4 linked regions of the Homo sapiens genome follow. The protein of the gene in region 1 purifies or fractionates together with the protein of each later gene. This does not show direct contact. Each region holds a gene or a part of one and is shown in the gene's direction. Other genes may lie near its edges. The genes, in order: ARHGAP15, CYB5A, HACD3 and BCAP29.

What was found.
Region 2: the proteins of ARHGAP15 (region 1) and CYB5A purify together in Homo sapiens (affinity purification with mass spectrometry; one large-scale study listed by BioGRID and IntAct). This does not show direct contact.
Region 3: the proteins of ARHGAP15 (region 1) and HACD3 purify together in Homo sapiens (affinity purification with mass spectrometry; one large-scale study listed by BioGRID and IntAct). This does not show direct contact.
Region 4: the proteins of ARHGAP15 (region 1) and BCAP29 purify together in Homo sapiens (affinity purification with mass spectrometry; one large-scale study listed by BioGRID and IntAct). This does not show direct contact.

What each region holds. Positions count from the first base shown.
Region 1 is NC_000002.12:143,126,784-143,133,378, forward strand, and holds the start of ARHGAP15 (rho GTPase-activating protein 15), read left to right. Parts: upstream 1-2,635; 5' UTR 2,636-2,647; coding exon of another isoform or gene 2,648-2,683; intron 2,684-6,595. UniProt on the Homo sapiens protein: GTPase activator for the Rho-type GTPases by converting them to an inactive GDP-bound state. Has activity toward RAC1. Overexpression results in an increase in actin stress fibers and cell contraction.
Region 2 is NC_000018.10:74,253,150-74,259,158, reverse strand, and holds part of CYB5A (cytochrome b5), read left to right. Parts: intron 1-2,305; coding exon of another isoform or gene 2,306-2,314; exon of another isoform or gene 2,315-3,220; intron 3,221-3,383; coding exon 3,384-3,418; intron 3,419-5,493; coding exon 5,494-5,575; 3' UTR 5,576-6,009.
Region 3 is NC_000015.10:65,535,436-65,541,444, forward strand, and holds part of HACD3 (very-long-chain (3R)-3-hydroxyacyl-CoA dehydratase 3), read left to right. Parts: intron 1-6,009. UniProt on the Homo sapiens protein: Catalyzes the third of the four reactions of the long-chain fatty acids elongation cycle. This endoplasmic reticulum-bound enzymatic process, allows the addition of two carbons to the chain of long- and very long-chain fatty acids/VLCFAs per cycle.
Region 4 is NC_000007.14:107,585,772-107,591,780, forward strand, and holds part of BCAP29 (B-cell receptor-associated protein 29), read left to right. Parts: intron 1-6,009. UniProt on the Homo sapiens protein: May play a role in anterograde transport of membrane proteins from the endoplasmic reticulum to the Golgi. May be involved in CASP8-mediated apoptosis.

The sequences.
Region 1 (6,595 bases):
TCAAGGCACTGACCTGTAGCCTTAATCATAGTAAGTACCTCTCCTTTTAGAAATCAAATCCAGGGCCGGGCACAGTGGCTCACGCCTGTAATCCCAGCACTTTGGGAGGCCGAGGCGGGCGGATCACCTGAGGTCAGGAGTTAACAACCATCCTGGCCAACATGGTGAAACCCCGTCTCTACTAAAAAAAATAAAAAATTAGCTGGGTGTGGTGGTGCACGCCTGTAATCCCAGCTACTCGGGAGGCTGAGGCACTTGAACCTGGGAATCACTTGAACCTGGAGGCGGAGGTTGCAGTGAGCCGAGATCATGCCACTGCACTCCAGCCTGGGCAATAGAACGAGACTCTGTCTCAAAAAAAAAAAAAAAAAGAAAGAAAGAAAAGAAAAGAAAAAAGAAATCAAACCCAGGCATATCACACTGCCTAAGGGGCTCACCTTCCACCTTATACAAAGAAAAGGGGCACTTGTCTCCATTAACTAATTGTTGATGCCAACAAATATTGTGTCACCCTTAAGCAGGTATTTACATTTATTTATTACCATAAGGGTATATTGTTATTTTATATTTTTCCTAGTCAGATGCCTGATGTTAGTATCTATTTAAAAGGAAAGGCATGGCCGGGAGTGGTGGCTCACGCCTGTAATCCCAGCACTTTGGGAGGCCGAGGCGGGCGGCTCATGAGGTCAAGAGATAGAGACCATCCTGGCCAACATGGTGAAACCTCGTCTCTACTAAAAATACATAAATTAGCTGGGCATGGTGGTGCATGCCTGTAATCTCAGCAATTCGGGAAGCTGAGGCAGGAGAATCCCTTGAACCCGGGAGGCAGAGTTTGCAGTGAGCTGAGATCGCGCCACTGCACTCCAGTCTGGCAACAGAGCGAGACTCCGTAAAAACAAGCAAACAAAAACAAGGAAAGGCCTAATTTATTTTCCTTGTCCTAGACTTCTGAGTCTAACTCAGATTTACAAAGGCTTAAATCAAGCAGAATGTACTGAAGTTCTCTGATGCTTCTTAGGAGTTATCAACATTTCCCAGCTCATGCTAATTTATATATCTACAATTCCTTATGATATACAAAATATATACATCTATTTACTTATCGTGTTCCCCAAGATGGATTTTTTTATGCGGATGTTTCATTACATGGATAAATGAACTAAATTTCAGAGAACTTAAGTAACTTGGCCAAGGTTAAGTGAATAGCAGTGTCAGAATTAAGCCCGGAATTCTGCTTTCCTCACTTTTAATATTATGAACTTTCCATTTTCTCTTCGGTGTTAAGGAGAAGCATTCAGTACAAATCTTCAGGACTCTAAACACTTAAAAAGGTCCTTCCTGAAATGAGAACTGACAGTGAATTCTAGGGTCAATCTGAAATGTGATTTTTAGAAAAAGATCCCAGAGAAATTCAGTTAACTGATAGGGACATGCCATCCCTAACTTGGGCCATATCCACCAAATCTATTTTTAAAGATTGACTTTTAGTATGCCAAACATTCTATACCACTGAGCTCTATTACACAGATTTCTAGTCTAATTGGTTTGTATGACAAGAGATTGTGATTTAACTCTCTCATATATTTGGAAGGAAAGCTTTTCCTCTCTTCCTTTTATGATTAAGCTGCAAATCTCACAAAACCAGCCAAGCCTGAAAATCCAGGAGCTTATTCTTGAACTCCATGGCTCAATAAAGATGCACATCCTAGAGTTATTTCTGAGACCCCTTACAAATATGTCTTGGGTTTGTTGAAGTTTGACACAAGAGGGCATTCAGCAGCATGCCAAAATGATATTGTTTGGATCCTTTATTATAATATATATTTTTTTTCTTTTTAAGTCAGACCACACAAAGAATCACTCAGCTAGAGCAAAAGCTCTTCAGCAGGTTTCAGAACTGCTTAGGAAATTGCCAGAGTGGACACATCCGTATGAGAGCCACAGTCACAGCAAATGCCACAGGGTGTGTTCGACGAGCATGATGAACACCTGCCTTTTCCCCAGATGCTCAGATGGCGGCGTGGCTCTGGGCTGTGTTTTCTGAAGTTCTAATGCAACCCTCCCAAGGCCTGATGAACCTGTTAACTGGATCAGGTTTTGGTGGGTCCTTTCATGAATGAGGCAGAGGCACCAGCTCTGTGAATTGGAGGTGGCTTCCTTGCTTCCAAAGTCAATATGCAGAGTGTCCTGATAGCATGGGAGCATCTCAAGCGTAGCCAGCAGAGTAGACGCTTCATTTTTCAGCCCTTGCTAGAAGGCAGAGAAAGAGGAAGTTTCTTCAGTGCTTAGCAGTCTGCTCCTCCCACTGATGAATTTTTAATCACACATTTTCCTCCCTTAAGTTAAAATTGATAAAATCTCTATACATGTGTCTTGTTTGACAATTGATAATAACATTGAAAAATAACAATATTGTTGACTATACAAGGCAATTTCTTCAAATTGAGTAATGATGTGATGTGTGTGGTTAACTGTCTCTACCCAGGAAGTGGTTTTATTTAAAAGTTTTGTGCTCACCCCACCCCCCGCCTTTTTCTTCCCCCAGTACTGAAATTAAGCAGCATCCAACACAGGCCTACTCTTACGACATGTGACTTTACTGTTTTCCGTTTTTGTTGAAAGAGTCATTAACAGTTAGGAGTTGATGGCAGTTTCAATAACAGGTCATTGCCGAGAAAAGGTAAGTTTTAACTTTATATTGTACATGAAATTTAAACTTGAACATGTTCGGCAGAGTTTCCTACATTTTGGTGTGAACATATAAACATTTCTACAAAATATGACGCTTTTACCTGTGATTAAAACATTGGCTGGTTTCCTTTGATGTAGAAAAGAATGTTCTTTTCATATTTGCAGCTGTCAAATTCCAATGTCTTTTACTAAAATGTTATAATAATAAGATGATTTGCTAAGATTTTGTACTAAAATGTTAAAGACAGAATAAGTTATAAAGTTTTAGTTTGAAGTGCATTTAAAAATAACTACTAGAAATAATGTGAGACTTTGCACCTTTAACCAACTGTTTTATAAAAATATGTATTGTTCAACATCCAGATAAGGAAAGAGAAAAGGGTATAACAATGAGAAATAGCTTGAATTTCAGTGTGAAAGATACTCACTTTAAAGCATTGTATTAATGTTAGCACTAAAAACCCTTAAAAAGGTTACTATGTAGCTAATTAAAAAGCAAGGAGCTTTTAAAATGTAAAGGAATACTGTCTATCATGACACTTGAAATTTTTTTTCTAAATTTCATTTAAGATATAGGGTGAAATGAGTGTAAGTTTCTAATTCATAAGCAAACTTTTATATTTAAAAAAGAAGTCACAGCTGATTTCATTGAAGGTTACTCTGAGAGGAGAGGCAAATTAGAGGTATACTTTTGTTATTTATGTAATTATATAATTTTCCTTCTTTGAAATATTCCAAAATAATAAACCTTAGAAATGAAAAGGATTTGTTAGTCCTAAACTGACATGTAATTTTCTTTTATATTGACTTCTTGCTTTTACAGAATGTCTTTGTGTGCTGTAACATATGTGCAGAAAACATCAAAATATTGCTAATCTCAGAGACAAATACCTAAAATAAATCTGACTGTAGATTTTTGAAAGAATTTTAATAACAGCCCAAGATATGATCCATTCTTCCCTAATATTATTTTTATTGTGCTGCTGGATGGGAGAAGTGATGGCCCCCACAACACCTATTTTTTGTGTTATTAAAAAATGGTTACAGGGTTGATAAGTGGCAACAATTTTCTTTTCTTTTATTGTCTTCTATTGAAAGACACACATAAATGTTTTTTGACATGGTCAATTTAGTAGGAAATTATTAGGCATAGTAGTACACTCCATTTTAAGACCTCTTCAATTGTCAATACTGAAGCTAGCTACTTGTTGACTATTAAAATGATCACAGAAAAATAGAGATTAGGACTTGGTGTTCAATACATTTTTTATTGTTAGCATGTAAGAAGACCCTGGTAATATATATTTGCTTTGATATTGTGATTAGATTTTCAATTTGTTGCATTTCCTCACAATGGAAAGCATTATTTAAATCTGTCTTCAATATCGTGGTTCTGAACCTCTGCATCTATAGAAGCTGTATAATTCTGATAATTTTGGTTGATATGTTATTACTTTCTTTCATTTTATTATAAAAGAATATCAAATGAATAAACACATGCAATACTTACACCTTAGCAAGAATGAATATGCAGATAAACATCTGGCATTGAGGAAAAGTCCATGAAAATTTTTTAAATTGTTTAATGCTTTTAAAAAAGAAATTCACTGTAAAAATGAGTGTTTCTTGCAGAAACTGTTAAATTAAAATACACATATTTTATGGAATATGTGTAAAATTAAGAATGAATTGAAGAGAGCTTGATATGAATTTAGAAAGATCAATGAGTAAAGATGATAGGTAAATTAAAATACCTTCAGAATTGTTTGTAAAGAGCAGTAAGGTACAAACCAAATTTTAAGACAGTTAATTGCAAATAAGTTACTATAGAATTCTATTACTTTATATGTTTTAAGTGGATGAGTCAGAAACAAGTTTTGATGAAATGAAAATAATACGGAAGATTTTATTTGGAAAGTCATATTAAAGCTAATTTGCTCAAAGAATGTCGTGCTTTTCCACTTAGGGCCAGCATTCAGTAAGATTCAGAAAGGAGAAACTCTTTCCTTGATATTCCTCCTGTTGCTCCTTTTTATTATTCTCTTCTGGAGCGGCCTGCTCTGCTCCTAATTTAGAGTCCCATAGACTTGGTACCTAGAAAGATAGACCCTTCCATTCACTGGCTCCTTCCATTCAACTGAACTTTTAAAATGTACTCATCCCATTTTCCAGCACTTAGGGAATCTAATAAAAATAATCCACGCTTATAGGAGAAGGCTACAGAGCTTTGACTTCCTAGCCAGGCCTCCCTTTCTCCCCCCAGTGGAATTTTAATATGTTTCCTCAGCAGACAGGGCCCAAAGGATTAGCTAAATGTTGGATCTCAAGTGAGGAGACTGATGCCATGGTAAATGGTTGGGGGAAGACTTTAGAGGGAGAGTGTTTTGTTAACCATTGGTCCTGCCTGTGGCATTTAAACACAGAATTTCTGGAAGTGTCTCATATGAAGGATCCATCCCAGTGATGTATCCATTTCTTTAAGATAGTCCTGAAGAAATAAACACCTTTCTTGCAGCAGGTAAAAAAAAAAAAATATTGCACTACATTTTCAGGCAATTTTGATATTCCCATACACTTAGAAATTATTTAACATAATTAGTTTTTAATAGATGTATTTTAAAAGTCATTGAACACTCTGAATTTAATTCTTTGGATACTAAAAGCATATTTTTTACACTGTACAATAAATGCTACATAATTAGACTTTAAAATGCCCTTGTAAGTATTCTAAATTTGAGCTTAGAGTGTGCAAAACTTCTTTGTTGGCAAACGATAGAAAATGAGTTCAAACTAGCCTAGGCAAAAGAGATATTCTTTTATGTGTGAAAAGTCTAAGGATAGCAAAGTCAGGAATGGCTGGATCCAGGAGCTCACACAGGATTATCAGGAGTAGGTCTCATTTTTTTCATTCCTCAGCTCTTCTTTTCACTATGCTGTAAGCAGTCTCTAGTGGAAGCTCTCACGAAATTGTCAAGCTCCTACTGAGTTGATCCTTTCAGCAAACTGTGGGGAAAGAATGCTTTTCCCCAGTCACCACAGCAAAGTGTCAGATTTAGATCTGATGGGACTGAATTGGATCACATGACCATAGCTGAACAATTACTGAACTTGGGTGCAGACAGCATGCGTGACCATGCCTAGCTCACAGGCCCACTCCTGCACTGGGGGCAGCTACAGCTGCAGCACTTGGGCTCTCTGCTAAAAAGAGGGGTCTCCTGATGTAGAAATTAAAATGCTTTCCCCAGAAGAAAGGACAAAAGCCTCAAAATTCTACTACGGAGTCACGTATGGTCACATTTTAAACAGTCATTATTTCCCAACTTCTTCAAATTCCATAATTGTACAAAAATACAGTTTTAATTGAAAGGCGGATCTGATTGAAACATGAGTTTGAATTAAACTAAATTTTAAAATATTTTTCAACAGCTACTGTATGTTTGACAACTCCTCACAACATTTGCCTTCTAAAAGCTTATAATCCAGAGTGACTATTATTTTAATAATTATGATGCAAATACAATTTGTCAAGTACCATAAGAAGATACAGAGAATGCTCTATTAGAGTTCAGAAATTCATCCAGCATTTTTGCATTCCTGTTATTTGCCGAGCCATAAACTAGAGAATTTTGTAAGTGTTGTATCATCTGATCACATACTTTCAGGGAGTTCTGGACAGTTTTGGAGGAAAGTTTTGTGGTAGTTTTCAGGGAAATCTAGCACTGGGAAGATGAGAAACATTGCAAGGGACAGGAAGGAAATATGTCAAGGCACAAAAACACGGCGTGTCAGAGAATTCCAAAGTAGTGTGAATTCTCCAGTTTTGTTAGACAGAAGTATAGTAATAAGAGGTAGGCCAGAAAGATAGTGTGAGATCATAAATAGAGTAGACCTGGATATAAGT
Region 2 (6,009 bases), on another chromosome or scaffold:
GTTTGTTTGTTTTTGAGACGGAATTTTGCTCTTGTCACCCAGGCTGGAGTGCAATGGCGTGATCTCGGCTCACTGCAACATCCACCTGCTGGGTTCAAGCAATTCTCCTGCCTCAGCCTCCCGAGTAGCTGGGATTACAGGTGCCTGCCACCATGCCCAGCTAATTTTTGTATTTTTAGTAGAGATGGGGTTTCACCATTGTTGGCCAGGCTTGTCTTGAACTCCTGACCTCAGGCATTCGCCTGCTTCAGCCTCCCAAAATGCCGAGATTACAGGTGTGAGCCACGGCACCCAGCCTAAAGTAGATGTTTTTACTCTCTTCAGAGATTTTACAGATTAACTAACTTCTGAGTATTTTTTAAACAACTCTTCTTTATTGTGACTTTGCTTCAGTGAGAGCAGAACCGGAAGAATGTGGGACAAGAACTTGCTGGCCTTTTTGAGAGGCCATAAGCAGATGAAATGAAAGGAAATACATGAGCATTTTTCTGGATGTATCTTTCTTGTGCTTTTGGTTTAGTGGAAGTAAAGAGTGTCCTTAGGGATTTCTTTTGTCATGTGTCTGTATAACCATCGGCCGATCTCCAGGTTGAAGAATGTACACTGTGGTCTAAAGTTTTGAGATGTTGCCTGCTTAAAATATCTAGTTGAATAGTGAAATAAAATGCAGTAAAGATTATTAGCTTGAACCTGCCCTAAGGAAAGCATAGTGTTAAGTTACCAAATTAAGATATTTGTAGACTTAGAAATCATGCATTTTAATCTAACATAAATGTTTCTATCACATTTGCTTACATAGAGAATATTAGTCGTAGCAATACCCCTTCTTGGTTATAGTTTTGAAAGCATTCTTGTAGAAGTTATTTGGTCCTCACAGTGTCTCCATGTTAGACCTGCCAAGGGAGGTAGGTACATTGCAGCTGGGAAGTGTTAAGCACCCGGCTCACAGACGTGCTCCAGAACCATCTAGCACCCATCTCAGGCTGGTCAGTTGCAGTCCCTTAAGCTTCTCCTCTAGGTTCTGGGCTTGCCGTGTTAGACATCACTCTGTCAGTATTTTAAGGGAGATAGGCTTCCCACTAAAGTTTACGTTAGATGAACTTATAAATGAGATGACTCTGATTCACAAAAGCTTGTTGGGCTTTGCATGCTTTTCATAATTTATGGAGCTTACTGTAATTTACACTGATTCACATGACTTTTATAAGTCATTATGCATGACATACTTATTTTACTTTTTTGAGACGGGGTCTCACTCTGTTGCCCAGGCTGCAATGCAGCGGCATGGATCTGGACTCACTGCACCATCCACCTCCCGGGGTCAAGCAATCCTCCCACCTCAGCCTCCCGAGTAGCTGGACCATAGGCACACAGCACTGTGCCCAGCTAATTTTTGTATTTTTCTGTAGAGACAGGGTTTCACCATGTTGCCCAGACTGGTCTCGAACTGCTGGACTCAAGCAACCCGCCAATCTCGGCCTCCCAAAGTGCTGGGATTACAGGCCTGAGCCACCATGCCCAGACTTTGACACACTGATTTAATTGTTAACCTCTTTTTACTGAAGTTGAACCTCGAAGTCATGGAGTGAACAGGTGGCAGAGCCAATCATAAAAACCATATTCTTTCTCCTTGTTCATTGCTGACATTCTTTGATAGTCACGTCCCTAAACCCAAGTGAGGCCCTCAGAGCACTGACCACTAAAGACCAATTACTTTTCCATCAAAGTGCAAAGTGGTAATTCAAACTTCCTTTAACTGTCAAGCATCCTGGGCTACAGAGCCAAGAAGATAATCAACAATCAAAAGGTGATACGATTATTTCAAGTTCCCCTCTTTAGAGTTCATGGCTGTTGCTGATGATGCTGGTGCCAGAGTAGTGTTTTAACCTTAGCGCTCTCCCATGGTAACCACAAAGGCAGCAGGAGGGCAGGTGGGAGGTTCCAGAGTTGTCAGCACGTTGGTGAAATGCCTGCCCTCATTTTAACGACGCCGTGGATGTTTGTGTTTGCCTTCCGTTGGCTGTTTCAAACTTAACTTTCTAGTTTGACAATCATATTTTACCTTCAGTGATTCTTTTGTTTCAGAACTGATTGTGTCCTCTAATAGCTAACTAATATTTTTGTATATTTTGATTATTTCTAGTAATTTTTGTTAATTTTATTCATATATACACAATTTGGAAAATCCTCTTGCTGTAGTTATGAATACTTTTTATAGATGCTAAGATTTTAAAATTGCTGGAATAGATAATAAATTTGCAATTTTATTTTTAAATGACTTACCTTTTTTCCCCTACTGTGTCAGGAACCTTAAAGGCGGTGTTTCAAGGTTGGTGGGTCTCATAACTGCTTTGCTTGCTTTTCCCTGAAAGGGGTCTGTCTTTTCACGGGAGTTTCTCTAACGTGCTTTGCAGAGTGATGCTTGCCTTACTGCAGGCCGCTGATTGTTTTGCTAATGCTTTTTATCTTTGCTTTGGGAAACTGCAGATCTGAAGCTGTCTTATTTATGGCAACTTCTGTTTGAGGCCCTAATGCTTATGTTGGTGTGGAACATCAAAAGAATGCTTCTTAACCCATTTTCAAGCCCCAAAAAGTTGATATTTCACTAGACCTTAGCTTTTCAGCTGTTGGAGAAGTATGCGTTTTTCCAGAACCATTGTCCATTCACTTTAGTGCTACTCAAAAGAGCTGCTCCCAGAAAGCTCTGGAGGATAAAAACAGGGCTTCCTTATCTGGGGATTTGCTGTTAGGCTGACAGTGACCAGCTGGTGACAAGTGTGACGCCGGGCACAGCAGTCCTGTGAGGCTGGTCTGGTGTCTTGCTGGTTCCGTCTGGTCAGAATTAAAGCAGCCCCCCGGGAAAGTTGGCCTAGAATGTAGAACTTAAAATGGCAGTCCTCTTTTTTCTTTTTGGTTCACATATATTTAATGTAATTTAGGTACACTTTTTTACATCTGTCAGATTTGAATGAAATAACTGATGTTTTTATTGAACATTGTGTTCATGCTTTTGAAGAATTAAACTGCTTTTTCTAAAGGTGACGTGGGATTGTGTGTATGTGAACATGAATGTCTGTTTTCAGTTTCTGCATTATTTAGATGCCTAGCGTGTGCAAGATATTTTATGTAGCATATTAATTTTGAATGTTTTTAAATTATTGAGGTTATGTCCTTAAGTAAATATAATGATTAAAATGTTTTACTCTGGAAGAAAACAAAGTTAGGCATTTTAGTGAAAAGAAGTTTATAATTTTCCCTTTCGACATCTTCTGAAGAATGCATTGCATAAAATATTGTGTTCTTATTTTCAAACAGGATTTTAGTCAATGAAATAAGTTCAGCATTCCCTTGAACTTACTTTACTTTTTCCTCTCGTGTTTCAGGAAACTCTTATCACTACTATTGATTCTAGTTCCAGGTATGTGGTAGCTTTCTTTTAAAGCAGTAGTGGGTGGGAGGGCTCATGGGTCCAGGTTGGACAAGGTGCGTCCCCCACCTTCTGGGTTCCTGGGCCTGACACTGTGCTGTCTCAGCAACCTTCTGCTGAAGGCCAGACTGTTCAGAGCACTCAGCCTCAAACTTTCAGGTAGCCGACTGTGAACACTGTCCACAGCCACGTGATCTAGCTGGCTGGCTGCATCCACCCCAAGGAACAAACAGAACAATTGCATTTCCTTTTCCCCCAGGGCAGCATCTTAGGCGGCCAGTCCCACAGCACCTCCCTGGCTCATCCAAGCAGACATTTCCTTCCTTTCAATCCATGTCTGTTTCTTAAACTCTAGTGATTACATTTCCCTAAACATGGGTCAGTTTTCCTTTGTCATTTTTATTAGCTTTAAAGTTGAAGCTGGTAATCTATGTGTAGCACGACTCAATTGTTCTAGGCACCAGATTTGTTTATGATAGTCCAAGTGCACATTAACATCTTTGGCAGCTCTACCATATTGACTTCAGTAGTAGCCACTTTTTTGGACCCAAGCTCAAAACCACACATTTGTATTTCATCCTGTCAAATTTAACTGCCTCAGTCCGTTGGTGTTCTGGAATATTCCCTGCCTGCAGGCAGTATTTCACCTTACTCTTCATTAACAAGCCAGTTTCTTTCTAAAGTGAAATTGAAAAACCCCACCAAACCCCACTAAGACAAAAGTTACACTTGTAATTCTTATGAAAGTTTCACTTGTAATCCTTATGAAAGGATTATACTTGTAGTCCCTATGAAACACATATGTATACCAAGTCTATTTCTAAAGCCTACACATTAATTTCCATTTTTCTAAGAAATTAAGTCAAAGATCAAAATCTAAAGATTCAAATCTAATTTAAAGATTCAAATAGAGGCCAGGCGCGGTGGCTCACGCCTGTAATCCCAGCACTTTGGGAGGCCGAGGCAGGTGGATCACGAGGTCAGGAGATCGAGACCATCCTGGCTAACACAGTGAAACCCTGTCTCTACTAAAAATACAAAAAAATTAGCCGGGCATGGTGGCGGGCGCCTGTAGTTCCAGCTACTCGGGAGGCTGAGGCAGGAGAATGGTGTGAACCCAGGAGGCGGAGCTTGCAGTGAGCCAAGATCGTGCCACTGCACTCCAGCCTGAGCAACAGAGCAAGACTCTGTATCAAAAAAAAAAAAAAGATTCAAATAGAAATTATAGCTCATCCCTCCTTTGTCCCTGATTTGATTTGTAATCTGTAATTTATAGATCGAAATTCTATGCATCAGGACTGTAAATTTAGGCTTTTTTTTTTTTTTTTTTGGTGAATTTAGACCTGTGGACCACACACCAAGTAGTCTGGCCATTCTGTTTCTTAACCCTTTAAATCCACTTCAGCACAGGTAGTAAAGATTAGATTTTCCAAACCTAAGCTTAAAGCTGTGGTGTTAATGGCAGTGTTAATCATCACAGGGCCCATACTCTTCAACTTTACAGCTGGTGGGGCATTCATTTTTTGGTTTGTTTATTTTTGTTAGTTTGTTTTTGAGACAGTCTCGCTCTATCACACAGGCTGGAGTGCAGTGGCGTGATCTCGGCTCACTGCAACCTCTGCCTCCCAGGTTCAAGCGATTCTCCTGCCCCAGCCTCCCAAGTAGCTGGGATTACAATTAGCTACTGCCACCACGCCCAGCTACTTTTTGTATTTTTTGGTAGAAGGTTTTTACTATGTTGGCCAGGCTGGTCTCAAACTTCTGACCTCAAGTGATCCGTCTGCCTTGGCCTCCCAAAGTGCTGGGATTACAGGCGTGAGCCACTGAGCCCAGCCAAGTGGGGCATGAGTTTTCTCATAAAGCCAGCAGGGCAGAGTGATTCCTAGTATAGCAGGGCATGTGTTACACTCATGTCACTTTTAGCAAATCCACGTTGCCTTTTCAGCAAAATTCATTACAGAGTTAAGAAAAACATGCCCTGGTAATTTTCTGTTAGAAGGAGCAAAGATTTTGAGTCCACCACAGTGCACATCATGTCAGCATCATTGCTTTTTGTGTCTTTCTAGTTGGTGGACCAACTGGGTGATCCCTGCCATCTCTGCAGTGGCCGTCGCCTTGATGTATCGCCTATACATGGCAGAGGACTGAACACCTCCTCAGAAGTCAGCGCAGGAAGAGCCTGCTTTGGACACGGGAGAAAAGAAGCCATTGCTAACTACTTCAACTGACAGAAACCTTCACTTGAAAACAATGATTTTAATATATCTCTTTCTTTTTCTTCCGACATTAGAAACAAAACAAAAAGAACTGTCCTTTCTGCGCTCAAATTTTTCGAGTGTGCCTTTTTATTCATCTACTTTATTTTGATGTTTCCTTAATGTGTAATTTACTTATTATAAGCATGATCTTTTAAAAATATATTTGGCTTTTAAAGTATGCACCGTGTTTGCCTGTTTGGTGTATAATTGTCTTTAATGTTTAGAATCTGGTTATTTAGAGGATTCCTTCAATGTGTTACTCATCCAGACCCACAGAGGCCATATGACTGGAGGTGCGGGAAATAGGTTTGAGTGTCTCCTTTC
Region 3 (6,009 bases), on another chromosome or scaffold:
AGATGCTTGACTGCAATTATGACCAGGCACATGTACAGGCATACCTTGTTTTATTGTGCTTTGCTTTATTGTGCTTTGCAGATAATGCGGTTTTGACAAATTGAAGGTTGTGGCAACAAAGTCTGTTGGCGTCATTTTTCCAACAGCATGTGTTCATTTAGTGTCTCTGTGTTGTATTTTGTTAATTCTTGGAATAGTTCAGATTTTTTCATTATTATTATATCTGTTCTGGTGATCTGTGATCAGTGATCTTTGATGTTAACTTTTTTTTTTTTTTTGAGGCAGGGTCTCACTCTGTTGCCCAGGTTGGAGTGCAGCAGTGTGATCATAGCTCACCGTAGCCTTGAACTCCTGGGTTTGAGCAGTCCTCCTGGCTCAGCCTACCAAGTAGGACTACAGGTACCTGCCTAGCTAATTTTCAATTTTTTAATTTTTTTAGAGGTGGGGTCTCATTATGTTGGCCAGGCTGGTCTTGAACTCCTGGACTTAAGCAATCCTCTTGCCTTGGCCTCCCAGATCCCTGAGGTTACAGGCTTGAACCACTGTGCCTAGCCTTGATGTTACTATTGTGATTGTTTATTATTTATTTATTTATTTTTGAGACAGGGTCTCACTCTGTCACCCAGGCTGGAGTGCAGTGGTGTGATCTTGGCCCACCGCAACCTCCGCCTCCCAGCCTCAAGTGATCCTTCCACCTCTGCTTCCCAAGTAGCTGGGACTGCAGGCATGTGCCACTGTGCCCAGCTAGTTTTTGTATTTTTTGTAGAGACGAGGTTGGTCTCGAACTCCTAAGCTCAAGTGGCCTGCCCACCTCGGCCTCCCAAAGTGCTGGGATTACAGGTTTGAGCCACTGTGCCCAGCCACCATTGTGATTGTTTTATGGCAAAATGAAATGCACCTATATAAGATGGTGAACTTAATCGATAAATGTATGTGTTCTGACTGCTCTCACTGGCCATTCCTCCATCTCTCTCCCTCTCCTTGGGCCTCTCCTCTGAGACACAACAATATTGAAATTAAGCCAGTTAATAACCCTACAATGGGGTCGGGTGTGATGGCTCATGCCTGTAATCCCAGCACTTTGGGAGGCTGTGGTGGGTGTGTCACTTGAGGTCAGGAGACCAGCCTGGCCAACATGGTGAAACCCCGTCTCTACTAAAAATATACAAAAATTAGCTAGGTGTGGTGGCGGGTGCCTGTAATCCTAACTACTCAGGAGGCTGAGGCAGGAGAATCACTTCAACCTGGGAGGCTGAAGTTGGGTGAGCTGAGATCACGCCACCGCACTCCAGTGGCAGAGTGAGACTCTGTCTCAAAAACAAAACAAACAAACAAGCCCTACAGTGGCTTCTAAGTGTTAAAGTGAAGAGTTGCACATGTCTCACTTTAAATCAAAAGCTAGAAATCATTAAGCTTAGTGAGGAAGGCATGTCAAAACTGAGACAGGCTGAAAGCTAGGCCTCTTGCACCAAGCAGCCAAGTTGTGAATGCAAAGAAACAATTTTTGAAGGAAATTAAAAGTGCTATTCCAGTGAACACCCAAATGATAAGAAAGCAAAATATCCATATTGCTGATATGAAGAAAGTTTGAGTGGTCTGGATAGAATATAAATCAGCCACGACATTCTCTTAAGCCAAAGCCTAATCCAGAACAAGGCCCCAACTCTTTCAATTCTATGAAGGCTGAGAGGTGAGGAAGCTGCAGAAGAGAAATTTGAAGCTAGCAGAAGTTGATTCATGAGGCTTAAGGAAAGGCTCCATAACATAAAAGTGCAAGGTGAAGCTACAAGTGCTGATTGTAGAAGCTGCAGCAAGTTATCCAGAAGATCTAACTAAGATCCTTGATGAAGGTGGCTGCACTGAACAACAGATTTTCAATGTAACAGCCTTCTACTGGAAGAAGATGCCGTGGAGGACTTTTATAGTTAGAGAGAAGTCAATGCCTGGCCTCAAAGCTTCAAAGGACAGTCTGACTCTTTTGTTAGGGGCTAATGCAGCTGGTGGCTTGAAGTTGAAGCCAGTGCCCCTTTACCATTCTGAAAATCCTAGGGCCCTTAAGAATTATGTTAAATCGGCCGGGCATGGTGGCTCATGTCTGTAATCCCGGCACTTTGGGAGGCCGAGGCAGGTGGATCACCTGAGGTCAGGAGTTCAAGATCAGGCTGACCAACATGGCGAAACCCCGTCTCTACTAAAAAATAAAAAAAATTAGCTGGGCATGGTGGCGGGCGCCTTTAATCCCAGCTACTTGGGAGGCTGAGGCAGGAGAATCGCTTGGATCTGGGAGGCAGAGGTTGCAGTGAGCTGAGATCGCACCACTGCACTCCAGCCTGGGCAATAGAGAGAGACTCTGTCTCAAAAAAAAAAAAAAAAAGAATTATGCTAAATCTACTCTGCCTATGCTCTGTAAGTGGAACAACGACTCCTGGATGATAGCACATTTGTTTACAGAATGGTTTACTGAATATTTTAAGCCCACTGTTGAGGCCAACTTCTCAGAAAAAAAAAAAAAAAAAAAAAAAAATATATATATATATATATATATATATATATATATATATATATGTATATTCCTTTCAAAATATTACTGCTCATTGACAGTGCACCTAGTCCCACCCAAGAGTGCTGATGGAAATGTCAAGGAGATTAATGTTGTTTTCATGCCCGCTAACATAACATTCCTTTTGCAGCCCATGGATCAAGGAATAATTTTGACTTTCAGGTCTTATTTAGAAAATACTTTCCGTAAGGTTAAAACTGTCGTAGGTAGTGATTCTGTGATGGATCTGGGCAAAGTCAATTGAAAACTTTCTGGAAAGGATTCACCATTCTAGATACCATTAAGATCATTTGTGATTCATAGGAAGAGGTCAAAATATAAAAATGAACAGGAGTTTCGAAGAAGTGGAATTCAACCCTCATGGATGATTTTGAGGGGTTCAAGACTTCAGTGGAGGTAGTAACTGCAGGTGTGGTAGAAATAGCAAGAGAACTAGACTTAGAAGTGGAGCCTGAAGGTGTGACTGAATGCAGCAATCTCATGATAAAACTTGAAGGGATGAGGAGTTGCTTCTTATGGATGAGCAAAGAAAGTGATTTATTGAGATGGAATCTATTTCTGATGAAGATGCTCTGAACATTGTTGAAATGACAATGAAGGGTTTATACTGTTTCATAAACTTAGTTAATAAAGCAGTGGCAGGGGTTGAGAGTATACTCTGATTTTAAAAGAAATTATTCTCTGGGTAAAACAGTATCAAACAGCATTGCATGCTGCAAAGAAATCTTTAGTGAAGGAAAGACTCAATCAATGAGACAAACTTCATTGTTGTCCTCCTTTAAGAAATTGCCACAGCCACTCCAGCCTTCAGCAGTCACCACCTGGATCAGTCCACAGCCATCAACATTGAGGCAGGACCCGCCACCAGCAAAAAGATTACAACTCCCTGAAAGCTCACATGATCATTAGCATTTTTTAGCAATGAAATATTTTAAAGTTAAGGTATGTACACTGTTTTTTAGAATAATACTGCATACTTAATAGACTATAGTATAATATAAACATAACATTTATATATACTGGGAAACCAGAAACTTTGTGTGACTCACTTTATTGTGATATTAGCTTTATTGTGGTGGTCTGGAACAGAACCTACAATAGCTCCAAGGTATGCCTGTAAATTAAAATGATAGGATACTGTTTCTCACATTAGAGTAGGAAAATTGAAAAAGCCTGACATGACCAAGTGTTTCTGAGAATGTTCAGTGACAGGACTTTTTTTTTTTTTTTTTTTTTTTTTTTGAGATGGAGTCTCACCGTGTCACCCCAGGCTGGATTGCAATGGCTCAATCTTGGCTCACTGCAATCTCCGCCTCCTGGGCTCAAGTGATTCTCCCGCCTCAGCCTCCCGAGTAGCTGGGACTACGGGCGCCCGCCATCATGCCCTGCTAATTTATGTATTTTTAGTAGAGATGGGGTTTCACCATGTTGGCCATGCTGGTCTCGAACTCCTGACCTCAAGTAATCTGCCTGCCTTGGCCTCCCAAAGCGCTAGGATTACAGACGTGAGCCACCGTGCCCAGCCGGACTTTTTTTATACAGTTGGTGGAAGTACTAATTGGTACAATTGATTTGGAGAACAGTTTTACACTATCTTGTCAAGCTGAAGTTGTATGTCTTTATGAGTTGGAAGTTTTGCTTTTTAGAGAAGCTCTTACACATGCAGGTGGAGGTAGAATGTTCATTGCAGCAAAAAATTGAAAACAGCCTCAATTTTTGTCAGCTGGAAGAATGGATAAATTGTGGTATATTTATACAATGGCACACTGTACAACAGCTACAATGAATGAAACAGAACCATCTTTATAGAATTAAAGCTTAGAAATATAATATCAAATAAAAAGCAAGTTGAAGAATGATATAGGCAGTATGAAATTATTTTTGTGACATGTCAAATCATACTGTATATTGTGAATGCCCAACGTGTTTTAATGAATAAATAAATACAGTGGAAACGACCAACTCCAATCCTGGAGTAGTGGTTACCTGCGAAGTTGGGGCATGTTTGAGGGAGAGGGCATTGGGATTGAGAAATTGTATAATGTATCTGTTTCTGTTTTATTTCTTTTTTTAAAAATTGAGGCAAATAAAGCAAAATGCTAATGGATGTTAGATATAGTGGTGTTTGCTATATTTTTCTGTTTGATTTTGCTTGAAATATTTAATAATAGAAATCAATAAGTCTAAGCTGTTTATTACCACAGTACAAAAACTACTTATAAAGCAGTAAGTTAAATAATCTGGTAACTGTTGACCACTCACAATGGTCCAGGCACAGTGCTAAGTACTAGATATTCAGTAATGAGCAACACATATAAAGGCACTACCTTCAGATTGAGGGAGACAGACAATAGATATGTTAATAAATAATTACCTAGATAAAGTGCTATGAGGGAAATAAAGAGGGTGATGAAATAGAGAATAATTGGTAGAGGCTATTTTAAATAGAGTGGTCAGGGAAGGCTTCCTTGAAGAGGTGATATTCTAGCCGGGTGAAACTTGAAAGTTAAAACAAATGGTGCAGAAAGCTGGGGCAAGAACATTCCAACAAGTCCACAGACTTAGAGGCAGGCAAAGGCTTAGTGGGGTTCCAGGAGCAGAAAGGATATTAGTATGTTTGGAGTGTAGTGAGGAATAAGTTAGAGGGAGATGAGGATAGAAGGGTTTGCAAGATGTAGGTCATGTAGAGCCTTGTTGCCATGGTAAGGAGCTTGGGTTTTATTGTAAGAGCAATGGGAAACTATTAAAGAGTTTTAAGCAGAGAAGTGACTTTGTAGGATTTGTGTTTCAAAAAAGATTATTCTGGCTGCTATGTGGATTATAAAGGGGCAAAAGTGAACTCTAGAAAACCATTTAGGGAGGCTGTTATAGTAGTATGGGTAAGAGATGAGGTGGCTCAGTTTAGGGTTGTGGAGGTGGAAAGCCATGGACACATTTGAGATATATCTGAAGAGAACCTTGAGGCCTTGATGGACTCGTTGGAGAGGAAGGGAAAAGAATTAATGACTAGTCTTAAGATTTTGACTTAAGCACAGAGTAGATGACAACTGAAATGATTAAGACTGGAGAAGAGATTTAGGGGCCAAAATCAAGAGTCCCCTTTTGGACATACTAGTTTGAGAGTCTTGTTATAAACAATTTCCATGTGAAAATGTGAACTAGTGATATAACTATACAAATACAGAGTTCAGGGCAGTAGTCTGGGTGAAAATAGAATTTTATAGTATCTTAGACTTAATTGATTGTAAAATGCACCACTATTTTATTTTTTTCCCTCATGATGAGGGGAAAAATGCTGCTGATTATACTGTGATACAAGCTTTCTTATTACTTTGAGTATTTTTAATTTATTGAAAGAGCTCTCTGAGAGTTTATTTAAACTGTTAATGCTGTTCAGCCAAAGATCACCAAAACACACCTTGTAGTTAAATAAGTTGGGTTTATTGCTT
Region 4 (6,009 bases), on another chromosome or scaffold:
CCTAAGGTCAGGAATTCCAGACCAGCTTGGCCAACGTGGTGAAACCCTGTCTCTACCAAAAATACAAAAATTAGCCGGGCATGGGGGCGCGTGCCTGTAATCCCAGCTACTCAGGAAACTGAGGCAGGAGAATTGTTTGCACCCGAGAGGCAGAGGTTGCAGTGAGCCGAGATCGCGCCATTGCACTGCAGCCTGGGTGACAAGAGTGAAACTCCGTCTCAAAAAAAAAGAAACCAACTTGAACTCGCTTGACTAAAAAAGGAAAAATTTGTAATAAAATACGGGGCTGTTGCAGAGTAGCCCAAGAAAGGAAGGAAGCCAAATTCCAGGGAGGGATTAGTACTTGGAACTGAAATGTCCTTTTCTTGGCCATATACATTTTTCCTATATATACTTCATTCTTTTTTATTATGGACTCTGATATTCTGTCTATCTCCAAGGCAGTAAATGGGTACCACACAGCTGCCAGGTGTGGTACCCATTCCAGACGTATGCAAGGGTTAATTCATCATCTCTGAATCCCAATTCCACATCAAAGGAAAAAAAATTGGACCAGCTAGTACCAGTTATCTACTCCTCATCTCCTATAACCAGGAAGGTCACAAGGGAGAATCATGACTGCTGGCTGAAGCCTGCATCTTTGGGTAAACAGGGCAATTAATTCCCAGAGAACAAGGACATCATGGATAGTTAAGGCAACCAGATAGGTGCTTATCCTCTAGGTCTCCATCCAAAATGGAGTAATGACACCTACTTTCGTGTTTTAAGATTTAAACGCAGTAACATATGTAAAGTGCAGAGTCTGATGTTCGAGTCCACAACGATGTAAATAATGCAAAACCAGTGGATTACTCATGCTTAATTTATATTTTACTTGGAAATTTATTTCCTTTTTCTTGGTTATCTCTCTAAATAAGGTAACTTTTTTATACATTTTCTTTTTATATGTATTTATTCTTTTTTTTTTTTTTTTTGTGACGGGGTCTCACTCTGTCACCAAGGCTGAAATGCAGTGGTGCGATCTCAGCTCACTGCAACCTCCACTTTCCAGGCTCAAGTAATTCTCCAGCTGCAGCCTCCCAAGTAGCTGGGACTACAGGCGAGAGCCACCAACCCCTGGCTAATTTTTGTTTTTTTTAATAGAGACAGGGTTTTGTCATGTTTCCCAGGCTGGTCCCAAACTCCTGAGCTCAAAGCGATCCGCCCACTTCGGCTTCCCAAAGTGCTGGGATTACAGGCATGAGCCACTGCACCCAGCCAAAATAAGGTAGCTATTAAGAAGTGTTTGTATTCTTAGAGCCAACACTAACTGAGTGTGTGCATACAAGTGTGTGTGCATGTGTGTGTATTTTAGGTGCTGGTAAGAGACAGAATGGAAGTGGGAATTTCAAGAGTGTGTTTAGTGTTAGCAGAAATGCATCCCAGGAATTTGAAAGTTTCCATAACTGATCTAAAATTGGATCATCTTCAGGTGGTTTATAGAAAATTGACTATATGTCACATCCTTCCCTTATTGTTGACTCCATTCCATTTTTCAGACATAGTTACCTTTTTAGTATACAGGTGATGTATTCTACAGGTATGTTTACATGACCATTGACATTAATAAACCTTTTTAATATTATTGGTTAATCTTCAGCTTTTCTGCATAATGGATTCAGGAGTATTATTCCCATTTAATTACCAAGGAAGATGAATCACGAAGCATAATGATCCTTCATAGTACTCACTATTTGCCTATTTAAAATAAGTCGTAAATATATATTATCTTTGTTGGTTTTTTGGTAGTGGTTGGCATGCTCTTACTATATTATTGAGGCAATCTGAGAAATGACAAAGGGGAAATAGCCATTAAGATACAGGAAATTTTCTAAAGATCATTTAAGAGACTACTTTATATAACTATGCAAATAAATTGGAAAACCTAGATAAAATGTATAATTTTGTAGAAAAATATGATTTACCAAATGAACACCAGTAGATATAGAAAATTTAAGCAGACTAATTTATATAGAAAAATTATAGAAAGTTATCAAAAAGGACCCCTATTTGAAAAAAAAAGCAAAAAACCAGATAGTTTTATAAGAAACCCTACTGCTTTCAGAAAACAGATATTACTACTGCTTCTTAAACTGTTCTAGAATTTAAACTTCAAATTGTACAGAGCTAGAAAAAAGCAAGCTGTAGAATTGAAAATAAGTCAGAACAAATGAACTGAATAGTACATCAGATTGCAATATATAACACAGAGAAAAATAATTACTCTTGAACATAGTACTCTTAACTTTTTACCTCGCTGGTAGGGTACATTTTAAGAACCAAGAGGATTACAATGAAATCTGAAACTTTATAATAGTTTTATTGTTGGTAATTTAAAAGCTGTTTTATGTATAGTGCAGCATCAAGCAAATTAGTATGTTCATGGTATTAGAAACTAAGACTTTCAGGAATAGATATGGCATACAAATATAAAGTCAAAAATTAAGGATTTTTTAAGTTTTAGAGTGATTTATTTGGGTTTTATTTTGGAGTATGGAAATGTGGAACTAGATAGAGGTGGTAGTTGCACAGCATTGTGAATATACTAAGCATGACTGAATTGTTCACTTTAAAGTGTTTACTTTTATGTTATATGAATTTTGCCTCAATAAATTAAAACAATTTTGTTAAAGACATAGGAGTCTGGCTTTGTTCATAGCAAAACGGGTTGTATTAGACTATTTCTCCTGTGTTAAAAATTATGAACCCTCGATAAAATACGAAAAAAGGTATTTGAAGGCCTTGTAGAGCAACCAAAAGCAGGCAGAAACTAGAGGGACGTCAACCCTTAAAAGAAGGGAATCATACTGGGTGTGATCACATTTATATAGCCTTTCTTCCAACCGCTTTCCAGTCATGTGGCATAGACAACGATATAGAACTCAAAGCAAAAAGACAGTCTTAACTGACTTAAGGGGTCAGAGGTCAGATAGATTCAAAAATAAGAAGGATGTCTAAGAAAGGAGAGAACCCAAAAAGGGAACCCCAAAATCCACATGTAAACTCCCCTTAAATTCTTGGTTGACTCTTCAACCATGGATGTGTAGGAAAGATTCCAAGGAAATCAATGAAAAGGAACAGCCAGCAAAAAGCAGCAAGGCTGAGAAGAAATTTTGGCTGCTGGCCACCAAGGAGAGACAGAGTTTGGAGTATGAGCCTCATCACGTTAGAGGGGCTTGGTAAAGACCTTGAACCTTTCCACTAAAATCACAGAAGGGCTACTCCTTAGGAATAGAGACTATATCCCAGGAATTAGAAATTTACTATAACTAAGGCCTAAAGCAAAATAGACTTACCCTAAAAAAGTATAAAAATCAAGCCTCTCTAAACAGCTGTAAACTGTACATCAGCAGTCCCCACCCTTTTTGGCACCAGGGACCAGCTTCATGGAAGACAGTTTTTCCATATGCAGGAGCAGGGGATGGTTTCGGGATGATTCAAGCACATTAAATTTATATGCACTTCATTTCTATTATTATTACATTGTAATATATAATGAAATAATTATGCAACTCACCGTAATGTAGAATCACTGGGAGCCCTGAGCTTGTTTCCTACAACTGGACATTCTCATCTGGGGATGATGGGAGATGGTGGCAGATCATCAGGCATTAGATTCTCATAAGAAGCATGCAACCTAGATCCCTTGCACGCGCAGTTCACAAAAGGGCTTCCACTCCTATGAGAATCTAATGCCACCACTGATCTGATAGCTTGGGCAGTAATGTGAGCGATAAGGAGTGGCTGTAAATACAGATGAAGCTTTGCTCACTGGCCTGCCAATCACCTCCTGCTGTGCAGCCCAATTCCTGACAGGCCGTGGAGCAGTACAGGTGCATGGCTCCAGGTGTTGGGGACCCCTGCTGTACATAATCTTTGCAAGGGCACATGAATATACTAAACTCTCTTCACCAAGATACACTATATTCTGGGCCATAAAACAAGTCTCAATAAATACAAAGGATTGAAGTCCTACCAAGGATTGGAATCATATAGAGTATGGGGGTTTTGTTTTTGTTGTTTTATAGAGACAGACTTTCGCTTTGTTGCCCAGGCTGGTCTCAAACTCCTGGCCTCAAGTGATCCTTCCTGTTCCCAAAATGCTGGGATTACAGATGAGAGCTACTGTGCCCAGCCCCTACAGAGTATGAAAATAGAAATCAGTAACAGAAATCTGGAAAACCTATACATGTTTGAAAATTAAACAAGACTTGTTAGTAATCCTTGGGTCAAAGAACTCACAAAGGAAATTAGAAAATATTTTAACTGAACAATAATGAAAATACAATATATTAAAATTTTAAGATGCCATTAAAGCACTGCTTAAAGGAAAAATTATAGATTTGAATATTTATTTTTAAAAAAGATTTAAAATCGGTGATTTTAGTTTCCACCTTAATAATATCTACCCATTATATTGAATATTGACAGTGAAAAAAATAATATTCACTCAGTTGTTTTTTAAAGATTTAGAAGGAAGATTTCTCATTCTGATGAAGAGCTACAAAAAACCTCAAGCTAGCATCATACTTAAATATCAAAGTCTTCCCCCATAAGATTGGAAACAAGGCAAGGATATTTACACTCTGTTTATTCATTTGAGTAATAGATGTCCTAGCCAGGGTAATAATAAGTCATGAAAGAAATGAAAGGCTTAAAGATTGCAAAGAAAGAAGTAAAATATCCTTATTTGCAGATGACACGATTATTTATATAGAAAATCCTGGCCTGGCACAGTGGCTCACTCCTGTAATCCCACCACTTTAGGAGGCTGAGTTGGGCAGATTGCTCAAGCTCAGGAGTTGCAGACCATCCTGGGCAACATGGCTAAACCCCGTCTCTACCAGAAAGTACAAAAATTAGCCAGGCATGGTGGCTCATGCTTGTAGTCCCAGCTACTCAAAAGGCTGAGGTGGGAGAGTTGCTTGAGCCCAAGAGGTCAAGGCTGCAGTGAGACGTGATCACATCACTGCACTCCAGCCTGGGTGACAAAGCGAGACCCTGTCTCAGAAAAAAAAAAAAAAAAGAAAGAAAGAAAGAAAGAAATAATCCTAAAGTATCTACAAGAAAGTTATTATGTCAAAGAAATTAATATAGTGGGGTCACAAAATACAGGTGGGTCAGTATACAAAAATTCAGTGTATCAGTAATTGTATTTCTATACTATAAGCAGTAAACAATAGGCAAATGACATTTTTAAAAATTCCTTTTCTAAGTACACCAAGAAGCCTAAAAACCTTAGAAATAAACTTTATAAAAGAGGCACAACAGCTCTATACAGAAAACTACAAAAACATTGCTGAAAGAAAATCAAAATAAATGGGGATTTTTCATCAGTTGGAATACTCAATATTATTAAAATGTTTGTTCTTCCAAAATTCTACGGACATAACACAGTCCCTGTCAGAAACCCAACAGGCATTTTTGTAGCAGTTGATCAGTTGCTTCTAAAATTTATGCAGACATGCAAAGAACTCATAAAACAGTCAAAAAATCTTTACAAATAACAAAATTGGGAGACTCACACTACCAGATTTCAACAGTAAAGGGGAAAATAAAAACAGGTTAGTGGGCTTTATCTAATCAGCTGAAAGCCTTAATAGAACAAAGATTGACCTCCTCTGAGCAAAAAGGAATTTTGACCGCAGGTTGCCTTTGGACTCAAGATGTATTTCTTCCCTGGATCTCCAGACTGCCAGTCTACCCTCCAGATTTTAAACTTAACAAGCCTCTACGAGCATATGAGCCAGTTCCTTAAAATAAATCTCGAGCTCTCTCTCTCTCTTTCTCTCTCTGTCTGCCCCCTGTACCACTTTTCCCCATACACACATACACACACACACACACCCTATTGGTTCTTTTTCCCTGGAGAACCCTTACATCTTAACTAAGTAATCAAATTTAGCATCAAAAAGTATGAGACAAACTAACATTACACAGCATAAACTATGAGGGATTCTTGCCAAAAGT